Homo sapiens: one gene and its partners. The protein of the gene in region 3 interacts with the protein of the main gene of each other region in a biochemical or structural test. Each region holds a gene or a part of one and is shown on either strand. Other genes may lie near its edges. The genes, in order: WDR48, USP46 and PHLPP1.

Region 1 (7,112 bases), on a different chromosome or scaffold from region 3:
TACAAATAGTGCTGCAGTGAACATCCTTGTACATATATCTTTGTGTGCTTTTTAGGATAAATTCCTAGAAGTGGAATTGCTGGATCCAAGGTTATGCACATTTTAAATTTTGATAGATACTGCCAAATTGCCCTCCACAAAGGCTGTAGTAGTCTACATTCTCACCAACAGTGTATGAGTGCCCATTTCCCCACACCTGCACCAACACTGGATACTTCTAATCTTTGCTAAAAAATAGGCAAATAGTATCTCATTATTTTTATGTGGATTAAAAACAAATTAATAGTGAGGTTAAGCATCTTTTCATATTGGCCATTTGTTTTTCTTCTGTGAATTACCTGTTTGTATTCTTTACCCATTTTTCTATTGGGTCATTTTTCTTACTGATTTGTGGGGTGGTGGTTTATATTGAATATTAACCCTTTAACTATTATCTGTGTCTCAATTAAATTTTCACTTTGTTCCTTTTGCCAGGTGAAAAGTTTTACTTTTTATATAATCAAATTGATCCTTGATGGCTCTTAGTTTCATGTCTTGTTTAGGTATTTCCTACTCCAAAGTAACAAAAATATTCTCCTATATTCTCTTCTAGTTCTTTTATGATAATTATGTCTAGCTCTCTAATCTATTAGAATTTAGTCTTCTGTTTGGTGTGAAGTAGGATTTAGACTTTTTCCAAAGGGACAGCTAGTGTGCTAGCACAATTTATTGAAAATCTGTCCTTTTTCTACTTATCTGGGATGCTATGTTTATCATGTACTAAATTTCTGTATACACATGGGTCTGCTTCTAGACTCTCTTATGTACTGTTGGTCTATTTTGTATCTTTCTAAAGCCATATGAAAAGGAATTTAATCTTTAGAACCTTCAGAAACTTTATTTTCTGTCCCGGATATACCTCTAAGACTTAAAGCCAATGTGACACCTGATGGATATTCCATGGTCTTCTCTATGCCTGAGCACCCCATAAGCCACTAATTTCTTTGAGTGTGAAACTCACCTGGGACGCATTGCTGACTTTAGCCCTGTGGCTTATTCTTGAGAGGAGACATCCAGACAGGATGTGACATGAAGGCTTGGAGGGGATTAATACCCTGAGAAAAGATGACCACGTAATTTTATCCTTCATCTAAGAATGTGGTTTACTTCATGGTAGACATCTGGGTTCTTGGCTGAAGTTTCCACTCTTTCTTAACACCTCAGACCTCACTGTGATGTCAGAGGGAAAGAAAATGGGAGGACTTTGATTGGCCTTTTCAGTTGGATGATGGGCCTCACCAGCACAGAATGTGTGGCTTTGCTCAAAGGTGAATGCTGTGGGTTTCTCTCAAGACACTTAAGTTTTTGTTTGGGCCTTTAGGTATCAACTCCAATATTTTAATGTAGAATTGAGATTCTGGTTTGTATGGCTTAAAAAATTAAAGTTTGTTTCCCTTTAATACCTTGTACTGTTATCTAAGAAGAGCCATGCTACAATTTCATATTACCTCTAATGTTACATATATTTTTCTGATGAATTTTCTCGAAGGCTGACTTAGGTAATTTGATAGCTTACTATACATTTCATAGAAAGTCACTTTTAATTGTAAGATAATTATTACTTGCAAGTCATGTTTTCCTATTAACATTATTTTCATTTATCAACTAATAGAAACTGTTATACCTTTTTAACTTTTACTGTTTCAGAAAAATATGCCCAAATTCAACAAAATTCCTTTCTACCTCCAACCTCATGCATCTTCAGGAGCAAAAACCTTAAAAAAGTAAGTAAATATATGGTTTCTTGATCTAATTAACTACTAGAGAGAATTCCTTTTCCTTATGATTGCTTTTATAGCAAAGGAAGCAAATACCAGATCTAAGGCTGATTTTATAATATTCAAAGTTTATACAATTAAACCACTTACCAGGTACCAACTTTGGCCGATTACAGGTGTTCAAAAATAAATAAGGCCAGGTACAGTGGCTCACGCCCATAATCCCAACACTTTGGGAGGGTGAGGTGGGAGGATTAATTGAGGCCAGGAGTTTGAGACCAGCCTGAGCAACGTAGTGAGACTCCTGTCTCTACAAAAGATTTAAGTAAAAAAATTAGCTGGGCATGGGAGCACACGCTTGTAGTCCAAGCTAGCCAGGAGGCTAAGGCAGGAGGATCATCAGAAGTTTGAGGCTGCAGTGAGCAAAGATCATGCTACTGCACTCCAGCTTGGGCAACAGAGAGAGACCCTGTCTCTAAGAAAAAAATGATAAATAAAACACACATTTTGTCTGTTGCCTTAATTCACAGTTTAGGACCCAACCTGTATATAATAGTTGTTTTTATGGATACTTAAGGAATAATGAGAGTGAGAGAAATAAATGAGCTTTTGGCTGGAGCTTCCCAGTAAGGCTTCTTGAAGGACGTGGAATTTGAGTTGGACATGTAATGATTGGTAGAACTTCAAAAGATAGATATTCCAAGTCCAGGACACAGTGTGATCAGGGATGTGGAAGTGGGAGCATGCATAAGATAGTGGAAAGTAACGTGAGGACCCATGCACCTGCAGCATGGGATGGAGGGGCAGCAGGGGGATATTAGGAGGTAAATTGGAAAAGCAGTTAAAGGTTTTGTTGATGTTGGATTTGAATGCCAAGCCATAGAGCGTGCAGTGACTAAACACCAGAAACTTTTGAGCCAATGTGGGATATGGTCCAGGGAGACCCAAGAGAAGAATTTTAGTAGTGTAGTAATGGGATGCTAAACTATGAACAATATGTATTCTAGCAAATAAAATAAAAAAAATTTTTAAACCTTTTTATTACAGAGATTTCCAAACTTATATAGAAAGAAGCTAGTGAGCCCCCATCGTCCCATCAGATAGCTTCAGTAATTATCAATACCTTGCTAAACATTTTGCTTCACCTATACCTCTACCTGCCCTCCCACCCATCTCTGTCTACACACACACACACACACACACACACACACAATTATTTTAAAGTGAGTCCTAGACATCAGTTCAGATAGATTTAACAACTGAAGTTCAAATGATTTTCAGAGCGTAGGCCTTAGTTTTTTGGTATAATAGTTATTGACTGTTATCAGAGATACAGAAGTAGGGTGTTGATGAGTCTAGTTTGGGACATACAGAGTTTGAGGTGCCTGTAGGACATCCAACTGAAGATACCCAACCAGCTGTTGGGTTTGTGGTTTAGAAGAGAAGGTTGAGACTCAAGGTCTAGACTCAGGCATTGTCTGCTCACAGGTGCTAGCTGAAGGCATGGCAGTGGGGAGGAGAGCCCAGGGAAAATTGAGCACTAAGAGTGTCGGACCCTGGTAAGCACTGGGAGCTGCCTGCCTTTCCAGAATTATTTAGTTTGCCCAGGTTCTGGGAAAGTATTCAAGGGAATAAAACCCAGAAGGCTACTATGTATGTATATGTAAATGTTTTTGTTTGTTTTTCTGAGATGGAGTCTCACTCTGTCGCCCAGGCTAGAGTGCAGTGGCGTATCTTGGCTCACTGCAGCCTCTGCATCCTGAGTAGCTGGAATTACAGGCGTGCACCACCATGCCCAGCTAATTTTTTGTATTTTAGTAGAGACGGGATTTCACCATGTTGGTTAGCCAGGCTGGTCTTGAACTCCTGATCTGAAGTGATCCACCTGCCTTGGCCTCCCAAAGTGCTGAGATTATAGGCGTGAGCCACCACACCTGGCCTGTATATGTCAAGTTTTAAGAACACATATTAATCTCATTTAGTTGTACATAAACTGTGTCTTAGAAGGACACTGTAGAAAATCTTTCCGCAGCTCTAAAAATGGATTAAGGTAATGACTAAAAACATTTATTGGTTTATTTTTCATCTTTAAAATGTTTGCATCAAAGAAAAATAATATGGAATAAATAATATCTAGTGATTTCCCTGATGTCACAATATGCCATTGCTTTTTTACAGAGATAGACTCTCTGCTAGTGACATGCTCCAAGTCCGAAAAGTTATGGAACATGTTTATGAAAAAATTATCAACTTGGATAATGAGTCTCAAACCACTAGCTCTTCTAATAATGAAAAACCAGGAGAACAGGAAAAAGAAGAAGATATTGCTGTGTTGGCAGAGGAGAAAATTGAACTTTTGTGCCAGGACCAGGTAAGTGGACTTGAGGACTACAGCCCCAATTTTTCCAGTGCTGGTGCTCATAAAGAGTTACATGCCTTTGGGTGGGGGGCTTCTACTTTTAGAGGGGCTCTAAGGAGCCCTGGGCCTCTCCTACCTAAAGCCCACCCTAAAGCTCCTCTTTACTGCTGGGGAGATTTTCAGAGAAGGGATACATAGACAAATGTGGATGTGCTGGTAGCTTTTTTTTCTGACAAGAAAAAAGACACATGGTCTTCTTGATTTGCAAAAAGCATGTGCCATGTTTATGATTTAGAGTGAAGGTGTGCGGAGAAATGGCAGAACTGTTTTTTAAATCAAGATGCACTCAAAACGTATCCTCAGAGGAATGGCTGAAAGATGGCCTGGTGTTTCTGGCATAGTCACAAAAGATGTACATCTCACTAAGCTCAATTTCATTCCCGCATGCATGGAAGCCGTGACAGCAAGAATTGGATACCAGGCATAGGGGAGGAGTGAGCAAGCTGGATCACCTGATGAGAGTCCCTGAGTTAATGATAAGGTTTTAGATATTAGAGACTTTGAAATTTTTAAATTTAATTTTGGCTATTCAGGTTTTGGATCCAAATATGGACCTTCGAACAGTGAAACACTTCATATGGAAGAGCGGTGGAGACCTCACCCTCCATTACCGTCAGAAGTCCACGTGAAGGCTGGGCTAATGCTCCTGGATATTCATTTACGACCTTCCTCTATGGCCCCAAGAGTAGTCCTAGGAAGCCCACTGATCCCCAACGGGAGCAAGACTTCTAACGGCTGATTGGTATGGACCGAGATTATCTTTCAATTGAAGTGACTAATCGAGATGTAATATAGAAACCAGTCTCCATGTGTAGATTAAGCTGTCCCCAGGGAAGCAGAGTGCAAGAGCAGAAGAGCCCCAAGCAGACTATGTCTTTCAAGATGTACAGAAGACTGACAACAGGCCAGTGCAGACTTTGCTTCCTCCTTTTGTTTCAAAGGACCTTATCTACCCATTAACACTTGTTAGAGACACCTCAGTCGGGCCACAACTGTCTCTGTTTCAACTTTAAGCCCACACACTCTGTAGCTTTTCTAAAACAGTACATTCCATTCATGCAGTAGATATGAAGGCTTTTTCCAAGTTTGTCATATAAAGTAATCAAATTGTTTTCACCGTTTAAGACAGTTATTTTTAATGGGAATTTGCTGTTGCACAATTTGAGAACCAGCCCATTTCATAATAAAAGATTAATGTTGGGCTTGTTGTTAATATTGCATCTCAGATGTGTTCTTGTAGGAAGATCTGTTGAAATTCCAGGTGCTGGATCATAGCACTTGGACTGTTGGGCCGGAGTTTGTGCAGCCCATGCCTAGCGATGCTGCACCTCCCATGATGTCCTGGCTTTGTGGCAACCCCAGGGAGGTGCAGCAGTTTCACTCCTTCCTCCACTGTGTCCAGTTTTATTTACACAAAGCGAGCTGAGACCACAGGTTCTTGCTCTGGATGAGCAGCATGACACCATCAAAATTTAAGACCATGATGAAATTTCAGTTTCATTCAAATGTTACCTAAAATTTATGGTGTCAGAATAAAGGGAGATCATAGTGAGTTAATTTGATATTCATATCCTGGAAGTATACATATTTGTTTTTCCAAAGTTTTATATGCAGGTTTTTGTTGTACCTGTATCCAGATCTTCTTTTCACTGTTCTAACAATCTAACACTTTCATAGAATCATTTGGATCTTGTATAGAGTGTAACTTATTGGGGATAAACACTTCAACTTTTGGCAGAAAATACTTTGGATTCTCCCCAAGGTCATTTGTATTCAGAGTAAATCAGTGGTCCACCCCCATAAAACTGTAAGACAAGCCTCCTGTATGAAGCCAGAAGCACAAGTGCCTTCAGAGGGCAGTTGATTCCAGTCCAGTTGCCTCCCTAGCTTGTGTGTGGCCTGCCTCCACCATAGCAGGGACTAGGGAGGGAGGCAGGGAACGTTTTTTCTTTTCTACATCTTCACAGGTTCGGCTGGGGGCAGCTGATAGGCCTAAGGCCATACCTTACTATTTAAGATACTCTGATCGCACAACTGCAGAGACAGGGTTCCCTCACTGCTAGTCAGCTTCTTTTGGAAACTGGACAGGCCATTGCCACCTGCACTTTGAAGAAGTGAGCAAAGACGTGGCCACATTTCTAATAAGTTGAAATGGTCTTTCTCCCTTCCTCAGAGAGCAACCAGCTTCTTTTTTTTTAAAAGTCCTTTCTATCTGTTGGATACAACAGTGTGCTTTTGGTGCACATTTTTTAGCAATAGTTGTGAATTAATGGCAAAGAAAAAAAAAATTATTTACCAGCCCTCAGTTGTGTTTGCCCGAGGGGCCTTTGAGCAAAGAAATGGGTTTTGCTGGGTCATTTTGCCCTGTGTGCTAAGCCTTGGGTGGCTGCATTCCCCTCCTGTCATAGATCTGACCCCCAGCATGATTGTATTTCTTTCCCCTCCAGTCAAACCGTAATACAGTTTCCAGAAAATTCGACAGTCTGCAATGCCAAAAGGGTAAAAATCTGTATTTCACAGTTGTATAGAATAAAGGCTTTAGTTAAAATATTTCAAAGTGTAGTACACATTTATTTTCATTTGTTATTTTCTTTCATAGCAGATTACAGAGAAAGAAAGAAACCTCTGGTTTCATGTTCTCCCTGGAAATATTAGCATTGATACCCATTTTATCCTCCAACTTATGGGGGAAGGGAAAGTAAAAGTGAGGGAGGGAAGAGCCAGAACCTTTGGGTGAGGGCAACTTTGGGTCAGACTGCCAGGCTACAGAGTTAAGGGAAGCTGGCCCCAGAACAGTCCTGTGGCGATTCTGTTCTACTTCCTGCATTCCAGCAGACTTGACACTGGGCTCCCAGACGATCCAGGACACAATGCCTCACTGTTATGCACACGTATCAGCTGCTCTGGTAGGCTTGACAAGGGTTTGCTTTAAATGA
Region 2 (7,112 bases), on a different chromosome or scaffold from region 3:
GTGGATCAGATGGTCACTGGTGTTTAGAGTAGTTAACTAGTTTTCTAATATGGTGAGCTGGACTCCAATACAGGGACATCCAGGCCAGTTCACGGAGCAGGGACCTTCTCACCCTCACCACTTATTCCAGAGGTGGCTCATCCCCAGGCAATGACTTGAGCCATCCCTCTTGTCCCTTGGCAGTTTGGAAACACATGCTACTGTAACTCCGTGCTTCAGGCATTGTACTTCTGCCGTCCATTCCGGGAGAATGTGTTGGCATACAAGGCCCAGCAAAAGAAGAAGGAAAACTTGCTGACGTGCCTGGCGGACCTTTTCCACAGCATTGCCACACAGAAGAAGAAGGTTGGCGTCATCCCACCAAAGAAGTTCATTTCAAGGCTGAGAAAAGAGAATGGTGAGTAGTATGCAGTATAATGTATTTAAGCCTCTGAAATAAGGAGAATTGATGGTTCTGTATCTCCTCAAAAGGAAGAGCTGGCATTTTTTTGAAAAGGGAAAATAAGCATGGTTAACTACTCGGTGTCATTTTTTAAGAAACAACATTTCTTCTCTGCCCAGTAAACTTAAAACAAAACTGGGTTAGAAACATGCTTAAAAACGCACATTTATTATTCCAATTTAGAATGACCATTTTATTTGCTCCATTCTGGGCAGGATCATTGTAAGAGAGAATAGTGTCCAAGGCAGCCTTCGGAGTGGGATACTCATTGGCCTAAATTGGTTGATGCAATAATTAAATAAAATAGTACTGGCTTATAAACTTGTCATAGGTGATTAAAATAAGTGCCTGTTATCTAATCAGAGCCTCTGCTGTTTTAAATACAATACCTCTGATTTTCATTTGCCTGAGGTAATTGAAGGATATCAAATTGATTGCTTTATATGGTTTTTAAAAGTCCTGATTTTTCTGGTTTTTCTATCTTCTTCTTCTGGGGGATTGGTAGTAGAAACTAGGTGTGTATTCCAGAAGTTTTGTATTGGCAGTTTTTATGACTATAAAGATATTTGTTATGGCAATTACTATTTATCTTAGATTCAGCCTTACTTCATCAGACGTGCATGGTTAATCAGGTATTTGTTTTATAAAGTCTCTTTTAATTTGATTGCTGTATTTTGAAGTTACAGTTTATACATACCAGATTAAAACTAATTTCAGTGGAGAAGGAAGCAGAGCACTCTGTCGAGTTGTGAACGTGATTAATAATGAAGGTTCACAGCTGCATTCATCTCTGATTGTTTGTCCTTATGGCAGGGAGCAGCACTAGGCTTCTGGAATCATTTGTATTTGGTTTCGGAACACTATCAGATAGATGCTTGCTCACACATACCCTCATCTCCCTTCTGTGTTTCATCTAAGCTGCTTCCAGGCTGGTCCAGGGTTTAATATGATCTTTGGGAGGACACCCCAGTTGCTCTGAATAAATTACCCAATGAATAATTAATTGATCATTGGTAGTTACATCATATTAAAAATTGATATTTTATCAGGGAACTTATCTGATAACTTCTGTTCCTTTGTAGAACAAATAGAACTTTTGGTAGTTTTATATAAATGTGATGACTTTAGGGAGATACGGGAAATTTTGTTCTTGGTGCATGGCAGAAAATGGAAATGAATTAAAAAAGCTCTTTGGAAACTTACTCATTGAAGCTGCCTGGTAGAGATGAGTATATTTATATTCCATACCTGTCCATCCTTTCAATATAAAAGTTGAAGTATGGGCCAGGCGCGGTGGCTCACGTCTGTAATCCCGGCACTTTGGGAGGCCAGGGTGGGCAAATCACAAGGTCAAGAGATTGAGACCATCCTGGCCAACATGGTGAACCTGGTCTCTACTAAAAATACAAAAATTAGCTAGCTGGGTGTGGTGGCATGCACCTGTAGTCCAGCTACTCAAGAGGCTGAGGCAGGAGAATTGCTTGAACCTGGGAGGCAGAGGTTGCAGTGAACTGAGATCATGCCACTACGCTCTAGCCTGGCGACACAGCGAGACTCCATCTCAAAAAAAAAATATTTAAGTATGGCATGTAACACTAATTACATCCATTTGCTTTTCAAGAACCAGAGACTGAAATAACCACCTTCTCCTTTCCAGATCTCTTTGATAACTACATGCAGCAGGATGCTCATGAATTTTTAAATTATTTGCTAAACACTATTGCGGACATCCTTCAGGAGGAGAAGAAACAGGAAAAACAAAATGGAAAATTAAAAAATGGCAACATGAACGAACCTGCGGAAAATAATAAACCAGAACTCACCTGGGTCCATGAGATTTTTCAGGGAACGCTTACCAATGAAACTCGATGCTTGAACTGTGAAACTGTAAGTACTAGGGGAGCTCTTATGTAGCTCGCATGTTCATATTTATGTACGCTATGTTGCATGTGATTGCAATGTCGTATTATAGCATTTAGCAGTTATTTGCAGTGTATGTAAATAATCCTATTTATGCATATGAAACTCAAGTACAAACTTTTGGAAGCACATATCCATCCAGGATGTCTCAGCAGGCCAAAGCTGAATAATAAAGGAAAATCTCCTCAAATGCTGAATTGCTTTACACCATGGGGAAATTTTGGGGTCTACAGATTTAATCTATTGAATTGGATGTCAACCAGTTACCTTGCAAAGATTTTGGTCATGGGGAGGTCTTGTGTGATGTAGAACAGGACCATCACCCCAGTTTAGAGGCAGTCAGCTGTGGTATGTTGAACTTGAAGTCAGAAGACAGGCTAGACTCCTGTTTTTACAGCAGTTAACTGGGTATTTGGGGCGAGTTACTTACAGCACTGTTTTGAGGGTTGGATGAGCTTATGTGTTTGGATGGGTCTGACACATGGTAGGTACATAATGTTAATTGAATTTGAAGACATGTTCTCCAGAGCATGATTCAGGATGTCATATTTTCTTGGCATGTTTAACTTCAACTCTGTGGGTGGCCTCATATTTTGCTGCTTAAGAGCTGAGCTCTGGAGCCAGGCTGCCCAAGTTTGTATGCTGGCTTTTCTGCTTGTTAGCTAGTGGAACCTGTGCAAATTATTAATCTTCTCTGTCCTCACTTTCTTCATCTATAAAATAGGGATGATGAGAATGCCCATCTTGGAGGGTTGGTGGGAGGATTAAATGAGTTGACACCTAGAGCCATGCTTGGCACATGGCAAGTAGGCAATAAATGTCAGGTATTATTTTTTATTATAACTACTACTGACAGCATAGAAAGTCTATGGGTTCATTAAGGATCTCAGAGTTTCCTGACATTGTATGGAAAATTCTATAAGATTGTGCATTTTTCTGGAAAGAGAGGTAGTAGCTTTTGTCAGATTTTGCAAAGAGCCTGTGTCTTAGTCTGGTCTGCTACAACGCAATCCCTCATGAGTTGCTTAAACAACAGAAATTCATTTCTCACAGTTCTGGAGGCTGAAAGTCCCAGATGAAGGTGCTAGCAGGGTCAGGTTCTTGGTGAGGACCTTCTTTCTGCCTTGCAGACAGCTGTCTTCTGGCTGTGTCCTCACTTGGTGGAGATAGAGAAAGCAAGCTCTCTCGGGTCTCCTTTTATAAGGGTACAAATCTTATCATGAGGGCTCCACCCTCATGACCTGTTTGCCTCCCAGAGGCCCATCTCCAAATACCATCCTATTAGAGATGAGGGTTTCAAAGTATGAATTTTGGGAGGACACAGACATTCAGTCCATTGCGAGCTGTGACCCAGAAATGTTTAAGAAATGTAGACTTACACATCAACATCTATGTAAAGGGAGAAGTTTTTAGGTTTTGGCAGTCTTTCTTCCATGCTTTTAAACAATTTTTGAGTCAAGCATTCTGTTTTACCCATTGTAGAAGCAATGAGAAAACACAGCTAAACAAAAAGAGACTAAAAGTTACCGGTAATCTTCCCACCCAGAGATGGTGAATTTGTAACGTTCTAAAATTTGTGATCACATTAGCCCAGAGATAACCACTTGAACATTTAAAAATATATCCTGTCAAAACACTTTCTGCACATAAATATGCCAATAAGTATCCAGAGATCTTCCCTCCCTGCCACTGTCTCTGTATTGCTTTCTCTTCTTCTCTCCCTCCCATTTTCCCTCTGTTCCTTTCTACTTTACATTCCAGTAAAATTCAAATGAATACAAAAGTAGAGGCAGTAGTATGGTATTTCCCATGTGTGTATTATTCAGGATCAGTGATTGTTAACACTTTGGCCAATCCTAATCCTCCCCGCCAACCCCCCAACCCCAACACACCCTTTTTACCTTGCAATTTATTTTTTAAAGAAATCAGGGTGTTTGTCCTATAGCATTTCCCACATTCTGGAAACATTCTTGTGGTGTACTTTAACATGTATGGTAAAATGGCAGTATGTTTCTACCACCCTACTCTTTGTTTTTATTTTTATTTTATTTTTTTAATTTTTTTTGAAACAGAATCTCGCTCTGCTGCCTAGGCTGGAGTACAGTGGCTTGATCTCAGCTCGCTCCAACCTCTGCCTCCCGGGTTCAAGTGATTCTCCTGCCTAAGCAGGAGCTGGGATTACAGGCGCCCACCACCACGCCTGGCTAACTCTTGTATTTTTAGTAGAGATGGGATTTCACCATGTTGGCCAGGCTGGTTTCGAACTCCTGACCTCAAGTAATCTGCCTGCTTTGGGCTCCCAAAGTGCTGGGATTACAGGCGTGAGCCACTGCACCTGGCCCCTACTTTTTGTTTTTATTTAATTAATCTATTTTATATTCATTTTTCTCTCTTCTTTTGGATCAATGAAATATTTTTCATTTTTTTGGCATCTAATGTATTACATTTCCAAATTCATTTAGAGGTTGCTCTAGAGATTACAACATGCATCCTTGACTTATTTCATTTTGTTTCCACTTTTCCAACAGTTAGAGCCTTTAATATACTTTATCGCCCTCTGTCTTTTGTGTTACCATTTTGTGATGAACTCATGAATTTTAACATATTTCATGTGTTTTAATCCATTATAGTTTTTTATTCCTTTTGATATTCAGTTTATTTTCAGAATAACTTTGTATACGTTTAAACATCAAAATTAGGGCTATATTGTAAATATGACAATTGACAGATTTTCAGTCTTTTTCATTTAATAAGGGTGTACTCCTTCTCACCATCCTTACCTCACCTCTTAAATCTATTCTGTTGCCACTCCCTGTCTGCTCTATCTCCCTTAAGATACTTTTCTTCCTCCCTGCTACTCCCATCCTGGCTCAGGCACCCATCAACTCTTGGCTGGCAGTCTCAACTAAACTACTGTAGTAACTCCTACTGGATTCTCTGTTTTTTCCTCTGGCCTTCCTCCATGTTACTCTCCTACCTAAAGTACAGTAGTGGCCTGCAGTCTCACTGAAAATACCACTGCCTACAAATTCTTATGTAAGCTGGCTCTGTCTGTCTCTGCAGGGTCATCTTTGCCATTCTGTTTCTTACTCTAGCTTCAGTGTAGCTTCTCAAGCCTTTCAAATCCCTTCCTGCTTCAGGTCCTTTGCACATGCCACTTTCTGTCTGGAATGCACACCACCTGCCCCTGTTGCTTGACTAAATCCTCTTCAGGTTTCAACTTGTGTTAAAACCCGAGAGAGGCCTTCTCTGAACTTCCAACTTAATGAAGTCACCTTGTATCATCTTACAATAGTCTAATTTTCTGTGATAGCACTTTGTTGTATTTATATATTTATCTATATGTATTTCGTATGCAGCATCTATCTTTCTTACTAAACTGTAAGATTGATGAGGACAGGGATAGTGTCGGTCTTGCTTCTCTCTCTGGTGCCCAAGGAGTATTTGACATATAATAATTAATAAATAGTTGAGTGAATAAATAAATGAAAATGTTTGTCATGTTTCTTGAAGAAGAAAACTATATGCTATGGGAAAAGATTTTGATTTATTTCATGAGGTAGAATTGAGGAATGATTTATAGTAAAGCCTGGTCTAGACTGGTAAGTCTTGAAATTATTTTTTAAATTAGGAAATATATCATTTTTTTAAAGAAGTATATGTGTGTGTGTATAACGTATGTTTATATATAGGCCACATATACATTTTAAAGAATAGTTTAAAAAATCCATATGCCCAACACCTATAAAAAAATGGAACATTAACAATAACTTTGAAACCCACTGTGTACTTCTTTGCAATTTAATTTTCCTCTCAGTCTCATCCTTTGCCCAGGAGGTGATCACTGTCTTCCATTTTGTGTGTCAATACTATCTTTTCTTTGTAGTTGTACATACATACGCATGTGTATTTCTAGACATTTACTTAGTTCTGCATGTTTATGGCTTTTATATAGATGAAATCACATACATGTATTCTTCTAAACTTGCTATTATCATTAAAGGTTATATTAATATTTTTGAGAATTGGCCATTTCTTGTAGCATGGTTCATTCATTGTTATCATTTTGTAGTATACCATTGTAGGAATATACTGCAGTTTGTTTTTCTGTTCTTCTATGGTGTGTCTAGTTTTTGGCTTGTAGACAGTGCTGCTACAAACTATCTCCTGGTCCCCATGGGCAAAATTCTCTCTGGGGTATCCTTTTGGGAGCAGAATTGCTGGCCATAGGGCATGTGCATCTTCAGATTTCCTAGGTAGTGCCAAATTGTTTCTAAAGTGGTGGTAAGTTAGTTACATTAGTAGAGGTTTTTTTTTTTTTATGTGTGTGAGACAGACTCTTGCTCTGTTACCCAGGCTGGAGTGTAGTAACACGATCTTGGCTCACTGCAACCTCTGCGTCCCAGGTTCAAGCAATTCTCCTGTCTCAGCCTCTGGAGTAGCCTGGATTACAGGTGTGCACCACCACGCCCGGCTAATTTTTGTATTTTTAGTAGAGATGAGGTTTTACCAAGTTGGTCAGGCTGGTCTTGAACACCTGACCTCAGGTGATCTGCCCACCTCAGCCTCACAAAGTGCTGGGATTACATACGTGAGCCACAGTGTGCAGTAACATTAATAGAGTTTCTAATGTTGACCCCACTTTGTATTTTTGTAATAAACTGAATTGGGGCTTTATCTTTTATATACATTGTTGGATTGTGAGATCTACGATTTTTAGGATTTTTTTGCCACTATATTTATTGCTGAG
Region 3 (7,112 bases):
AACCCAGGAGTTTGAGGCTGCAGTGAACTGTGATTGCACCACAGCTTGGGTAACAAGCTGTGATTGCATTCCAGCTTGGGTAACAAAGTGAGACCCTGTCTCAAAAAAAAAAAAAAAAAAAAAAAAAAAAGAAAGAAAAAGAAAAAACAAGAATACAAACAACTACAACATATTGTTGACCACAGTCACCATGATGTAACTAGGACAAACTTTTTATTTATTTATTTATTTATTTATTTATTTATTTATTTATTTATTTATTATTTTAAGGCAAAGTCTTGCTCTGTCACCCAGGTTGGAGTGCAGTGGTGCGATCTTGGCCCACTGCAACCTCCGCCTCCTGGGTTCAAACAAGTCTCCTGCCTTAGCCTACCGAGTAGTTGGGACTACAGGAACATGCCACCACAGCCAGCTAATTTTTGCATTTTTAGTAGAGGCGGGGTTTTGCCATGTTGGCCAGGCTGGTCTTGAACTCCTGACCTCAGGTGATCCACCTGCCTCGGCCTCCCAAAGTGCTGAGATTACAGGCAGGAGCCACTGCACCTGGCCCAGACAAACTTTTTAAAAGGCAAAATATGATGAAAATTCCCTTCTGGCCAGGCGTGGTTACTCATGCCTGTAATTCTCAGCACTTGGGGAGGCTAAGGCAGGAGAACAACTTGAGCCCAAGAGTTTGAGCCAGCCTAGGCAACAAACTGCGGTCCCATCTCTCTAAAAAATTTAAAAATTAGCCAAGTGTGGTAGTGTGTACTTTTCATCCCAGCTACACAGGAGGCTGAGGGAGGGGGATCACTTAAGTCCAGGAGATCAAGGCTCTAATGACCTGCGCTTGTACCGCTGCACTCCAGCCTGTAGAAGGGCTATGGTGATGGTGACAACGATGATGACCTATGGCTTTGTTGCAGTAAGAGATGAATAAAACAAGGTGTTTTTCAACAGATTTCACAATTTAGTAAGGAGAGTCAAATATGTTTTATAAAATACAGGAACTACAGGTATGTGGTAAGTGCCACGAATGATGTATAAAATGTAGAGAATGGTTTTTTAAAAAAGAGGCTATGGAAAAGGAAGCAAATCATCTGATTCCCAAGAGTAGGCAGAATGGAACAGGTGTACATGGGAGAAGAAAAGCAGGTGCGAGGAAGCAATGGAACAGCCTCTGCATCAAACAGAAGAGCACAGGGCAAGTTTGGTGCCTGCCTGAATAGCTTCTACAGGAGGGCAGGGGATGCAAGGGTCTGTGCTACAAAGGTGGGTGAGGCAATTAACCAAGGACTGGACCTACTAAGGACTCACACTGGGGTTGAAGGATAAATAAAAACAGTGCTTAAATTATCTATGGTGAAGGAGACCTATTTTCTAAAGTTGTAATTCATGACAGACTGATGTATAGTACACAACCCATACACAGCTCACATCACATGCAACTCACTGTGCAAGTTTGACAACATCTAAATTAGTTGAGGCCAGGCGCAGTGGCTCATGGCTGTAATCCCAGCACTTTGGGAGGCCGAAGCAGTTGGATCACTTGAGGTCAGGAGTTTGAGACCAACCTGGCCAACATGGTGAAACCCTGTCTCTACTAAAAATACAAAAAATTAGCCGGTCATGGTGATGGGCGCCTGTAATCCCAGTTACTTGGGAGGCTGAGGCAGGAAAATTGCTTAAATCTGGGAAGCGGAGGTTGCAGTGAGCCGAGATCACACCACTGCACTCCAGTCTGGGCAACAAGAAATTCCGTCTCAAAAAATAATAATAATAATAATAAATAAAACAAAATAAAAAAAACTAGTTGATTCCCTGTACAGCAAGAATCAACTCGTAATGCAGTTGGATATTGTGGCAATGTCAAATCATTATATGTTACTAAAATATTAGTCTTAACTTCTGTACACATCTCATTGTGGAAAAGTAGCAAATAGTTAACTTGCCACCACAGGTTGGAGGCCCACACATGAGCAGCTCAGAGATAGAGCCTCATCCTCAAATGACTCACATACCAGTGGGCTGAAACCAAATATGAGGGCTTGAGTACCTTGAACTAGAGAACCGCAGGCTCTGAGCAAAATTGTGCTTGCTTGGGAGGCTGCACAATGGAAGCAAATGGCTCAGGTAGAAGACAACAGTCACAGTGAGAAGAAAAAGGAAGGGATAAAAGACAGAAACTCATGTAAAAGAAGAGCTGACAGAATCAGCCAAGAGTTGTGTGTCTGGAAAACCAATGAGGTGGTGTTGCTATCAGCAAAAAAAGAAATCCATGAGAAAGAATTGGTTGAGTAAGAAAGACACTGAACTCTGTTTTACATGTATTTGGTTAAATGTGTGAATAGGGAAAACCAAGAAGTTATCCAGCTGGCAGCTTAAGTGGAACTGGTCTCAAGAAGTCAAAGAAGGAATAGGGAAAGACTGGGGAATGATTAACATCAAGATGAAAGGTGAAAATGAAGCCTGAGAGTATATGCAACCCCCAAGGCAGAAAACATGGATAGAAAGAGAACTGACCAAGAAGTAACAGCCACACTTTGTACAAAGAGGAGAAAGAGGAGAAGGGAGGAGGAATTATTAATGATGCCACAGAAGAAATAATATCAAACTCAAACAACATCAATGCAAAGAAAAAAATAATCAATCTGATGTACCATTTCCATTTAAAGGGAAAAAAAATTGAATAAAAGTGGCCCTTTACTTAGAGAAACTAAGCAAGACTCTCCTTAAATTACTCCACTAGCTTTGATTTTAAGTATTAAGGCAGAATTAGGCTGGGTGTGGTGGCTCATGTCTGTAATTCCAGCACTTTGAGAGGTCGAGGCAGGTGGATCACTTGAGGTCAGGAGTTCAAGACCAGTCTGGCCAATATGGTGAACCCCTGTCTTCAGTAAAAATACAAAAACTAGCCAGGTGTGGTGGCGGGCACTTGTAATCCCAGCTACTCGGGAGGTTGAGGGAGGAGAATCTCTTGAACCCAGGAGGTGGAGGTTGCAGTGAGCTGAGATCATGCCACTGCACTCCAGCCTGGGCGACAGACAGATACTCTATCTCTGAAAACAGAAGCAAAAACAAAAACAATAAACAACAAATAAAGTATTAAGGCAGAATTAGAACAAACCTATCTGATTTTCCCCTCCTCAGCTCAGGAGCCAGGAAGGAAGCAGTTACTCATGGTCATGCAACATTTACAGAGTGTCTAATGTCTATTCTGGTATTTAAATATCCTGTAGGTGATGTCATCTAAAAACTCAAGTTAGAACTATGAATCTGAAGAATTTATAAAGCTCTTACTAAGATTTATTACTTCCAGACATTTCAGATTGATCTTATGTGTAAGCTAATTCAGATCAAGAAAAATGATGTCTCCCTACATGTACCAGGTAACTCAGAAATCATCTCATTCTTACTACCTGAGGTCAGTGCAAGCCATTGTCCTTGGCTCTAATGAAGTTCTACCACTGGTGGATGAATAAAATAGGGCTCAAATTCTGGAATATGAGGGTTTTCTAAATACAAGGAACTCAAGAGGCAAATAATGTTAACAATTTAGAAAGCAAGTTAACAAAGTGTTTAGAGTTCCTTATCTTGTCACATTCCAAGAAATTCTCAAAAATCAGATAAATTATAACCACTTTTACCTCCAAATTAAGAATTTTATATCTGCAAATTGCTAATACTTCCCTAGGAGGGACAGGTCTGATTCCTTTATTCTGAGGAAAGGTGAAGCCAAGCAATTCTTTATGGGACTGGAATGTATAGGTTTCCTAGGCTGAACCATATGAAAGGAGAAGAAAGGGGAGCAAAAGGTGATGCTCCTTTACACTGATGAAACTGAACATGCCTGAGTACTTGGGAGGCTGAGGCAGGAAGATCACCTGAGCCCAGGAGTTTGAGGCTGCAGTGAGCTCTGAGCACATCATTACACTCCAGGCCGGGCAAGAGAGCAAGGCCCCATCTCTTTAAAAACAACAACAAAAAACAGGACGGGCATGGTGGCTCATGCCTGTAATCCCAGCACTTTGGGAGGCCGAGGCGGGTGGATCACGAGGTCAGGAGATCGAGACCATCCTGGCTACTAACACAGTGAAACTTCGTCTCTACTAAAAATACAAAAAAATTAGCCAGGCATGGTGGTGGGTGCCTGTAGTCCCAGCTACTAGGGAGGCTGAGACAGGAGAATGGCATGAACCTGGCAGGCGGAGCTTGCAGTAAGCCGAGATCAGGCCACCGCACTCCAGCCTGGGCGACAGAGCGAGACTTTGACTCAAAAAAAAAAAAAACAAGAACAACAAAAAAAACAAAAACCAACAACAACAACAAAAAACAGCTCTCTCACTCAACTGGGTTCCAATCTGCAAAACAAAGACCTTCAAGACATACATCAGTGAGAGTTTCCAGTAATAGCAAACCCTACTATTAATCATAATTCTTCCCTCTAGGCAGAAATAGAAAAACGGGCCCACATTCAATTACCCAGCTTGTTTGCCTTGGTTAATAACCTACTCCCCACCCCTGCAATATAAGCCAGCCACTCAAATGAGATCTATTTCTCAAAAATGGTTACCTTAGATCCACATGTTTAATGTGAGGCATTTTTCTTAAAGCCTGTAGCCTAAGGGTCTCCACACAGTTTCCAGACATACAAAGTTTATCCACAGCAGTCAATTTCTCCAATACTTCGGGAATGTCAGTAAATTCATTGAAAGAAAGACCCAGATAACTAAGCTGCTTCATGTTCTCCAACTCAGCAGGAAGGGATTGGAGAAAGTTTCCATCCAACAAAAATGTCTGTAAGCTATTAGAGAAAACATAAGAATTACAAAGAGAACATATAAATTTTACATCTTTATTATCAACATACAAGTTCCATAAGTGTAGACCGTATTACCAGAAAATGTATTATTCTTCGCAAAATGCCTAAGGGCAGGGCCTGAGGCAATAATGGACCAAAGAGAAATAATCAGAGATAAGCATCTTAATCTTTTATTGAAAATGAAAATCATGACTAGTTTTCCCAATTTGAATAGGCTTAAATGGGAGCAATGTGAGCTAACTGTGATATGAATTGATTCAGATATCCTTTGGGCTTTCCTTGTTATTTCTTAAAATTAATTTCTAAGTCTTAAAATTCAATATAACTCAGAAAAATGAGAACATAACCCACATTCCATGTTTAGACATACTCATCTGTAGGGATCTTCAGTTCTAAACAAGAATATTTAATTTTTTTACAAGACTGTAAGGAGTACAAATCCAACATATGAACTCCATACGGACTACATAGTCCCTGATCTCTTGATTTGGGGCCAAGACTTACATGAGCAACATAACAAGTTAACTAATCTCATGTGCCACACCCCCAATGCAGCTTCCCTGGGGCTTCTGGATATACCCGCCAGTGGGGTTTGAAGTACACACTTGTGCATCACTCCAACGGCTGCCGGGACTGATCGCAGGGCATTGCAGGACACGTTCAGCTCTGCCAGGGTTGGAATACTGCAGACTGCCAGTGGGAAGTCCCCTAAATGATTATTGGAAAGGTTAAGACTCTTCAACTTGGTGAACCTATTACAATAAAGCAAAACAAAAGGGAAAAAAGAGACAAATGTCATTAACATCATAATTTTAGCATAGCCTAAGAGATAATCTAGCCCAACTCCCAAATTCAACTAAAGAGGAAATGGGGGCCCCAGAGAGGTTAAGGAGCAGCAGCACTGGAATGCACATCTGCTGACTCTAAGGCCAGTGTTTTACCTAAAATGTAAACATTCTATCTAAAAACAAACTTTTCCCTCTAAAATAAGGTTGAATATTTCAGGAAGTGAATTCTGCTGGAGAAAGCTTTCTAGCAGTATCTCAATTAGCTTAATTAACACAGTGTAAATGGCCCCAGTGAAGGAGGAAAGGGACCAGGCAGAGCTGGCGTTAGCCCTTCTGGAGTCGGTGCTGTTTCAGACAAGTCAAAAACTCCTGTTTCATGTTTCTCAAACCCAAAACTGAAATAATAAAAACTTATCAAAACAATACTCTCTCTAAGGTAACCAGGACTTCGCAGTTCCAAATTTAAGAACCAATTATCAGCTGGGCCTGGTGGCTCAGGCCTGTAATCCTAGCACTTTGAGAAGCCGAGATGAGTGGATCACTTGAGGCCAGAAGTTTGGGACCAGCCTGGCCAACATGGTGAAACCCCATCTCTACCAAAAACACAAAAAATTAGCCGGGCCTGGTGGTGCACCCCTGTAATCCCAGCTACTCAGGAGGCTGAGGCACAAGAATCACTTGAACCTGGGAGGTGGAGGTTGCAGTGAGCTGAGATTGCACTCCTGGAATGTAGCCTGGGCGACAGAGTGACACTCTATCTCAAAAAAGAACCAATTATCATTCGTCGATCTCAATACAGTACTTGATTGATGCTGCTGACCACACACCCTTCTTCTTAGCTCTCTTAAGCCCTCTTCTCATGTATTACCTTCCTTTTCTTCATCTTTTCTTCCCCAACCCAAATTGAAGTAATCTTCATAGATAGGTTTTTTAGCAGTTTCATGCTCTCTCTACACTGTTTTCCTTGGAAATGTTTTGACTCCTATGTGAGCAATTATCTCAGTCCTATCACATGCTGGCTCCTCTCCTGAGCTACCCCACATTTCCAGCCCCAAACTGAACTTACCATCTTTATTCCAAACTGGCACTTCTTTTTCCTCTATTTTTGTTAATAGCCCTTTCATTTTCACAGTTGCCCAAGCAACTTAAGCAATTAAAGAAGCTATCTTTAATTTTTTACTTCTCTGTGCACTCTTACATTTGGCCTATCAACGACCTCTACACCATCTCTAAGTAAGATAAGAATCATATTAGTGACTGCGTTATGCTAACTCCTTTAAAAACCGCCCACGTCTAATCCTAGACAGTATGCACTCTGCCTAGAAGAGACACACACACTCTAAAAATAAACACAATTCAACCCAATCAGTATATGTTAAGCTGTATTCTAAATAGTTAAATAAAAGTTGATTCTAAATGGAAAGCTGACCATGTACCTATTTGACAGGTTGAGTGTTACCTTGATTTTTAAATAATACCTGTTTACTTGGATGGCTGAGTATAATAGACTTAATTGTATTTTA

What was found.
Region 1: the proteins of PHLPP1 (region 3) and WDR48 form a complex in vitro, tested with the Homo sapiens proteins (one study listed by BioGRID).
Region 2: the proteins of PHLPP1 (region 3) and USP46 form a complex in vitro, tested with the Homo sapiens proteins (one study listed by BioGRID).

What each region holds. Positions count from the first base shown.
Region 1 is NC_000003.12:39,089,939-39,097,050, forward strand, and holds the end of WDR48 (WD repeat-containing protein 48), read left to right. Parts: intron 1-1,686; coding exon 1,687-1,763; intron 1,764-3,935; coding exon 3,936-4,128; coding exon of another isoform or gene 4,129-4,314; exon of another isoform or gene 4,315-4,709; coding exon 4,710-4,805; 3' UTR 4,806-6,726; downstream 6,727-7,112. UniProt on the Homo sapiens protein: Regulator of deubiquitinating complexes, which acts as a strong activator of USP1, USP12 and USP46. Enhances the USP1-mediated deubiquitination of FANCD2; USP1 being almost inactive by itself.
Region 2 is NC_000004.12:52,621,235-52,628,346, reverse strand, and holds part of USP46 (ubiquitin carboxyl-terminal hydrolase 46), read left to right. Parts: intron 1-183; coding exon 184-397; intron 398-2,099; coding exon 2,100-2,329; intron 2,330-7,112. UniProt on the Homo sapiens protein: Deubiquitinating enzyme that plays a role in behavior, possibly by regulating GABA action. May act by mediating the deubiquitination of GAD1/GAD67.
Region 3 is NC_000018.10:62,893,452-62,900,563, reverse strand, and holds part of PHLPP1 (PH domain leucine-rich repeat-containing protein phosphatase 1), read right to left. Parts: intron 5,554-7,112; coding exon 5,407-5,553; intron 4,784-5,406; coding exon 4,553-4,783; intron 1-4,552. UniProt on the Homo sapiens protein: Protein phosphatase involved in regulation of Akt and PKC signaling.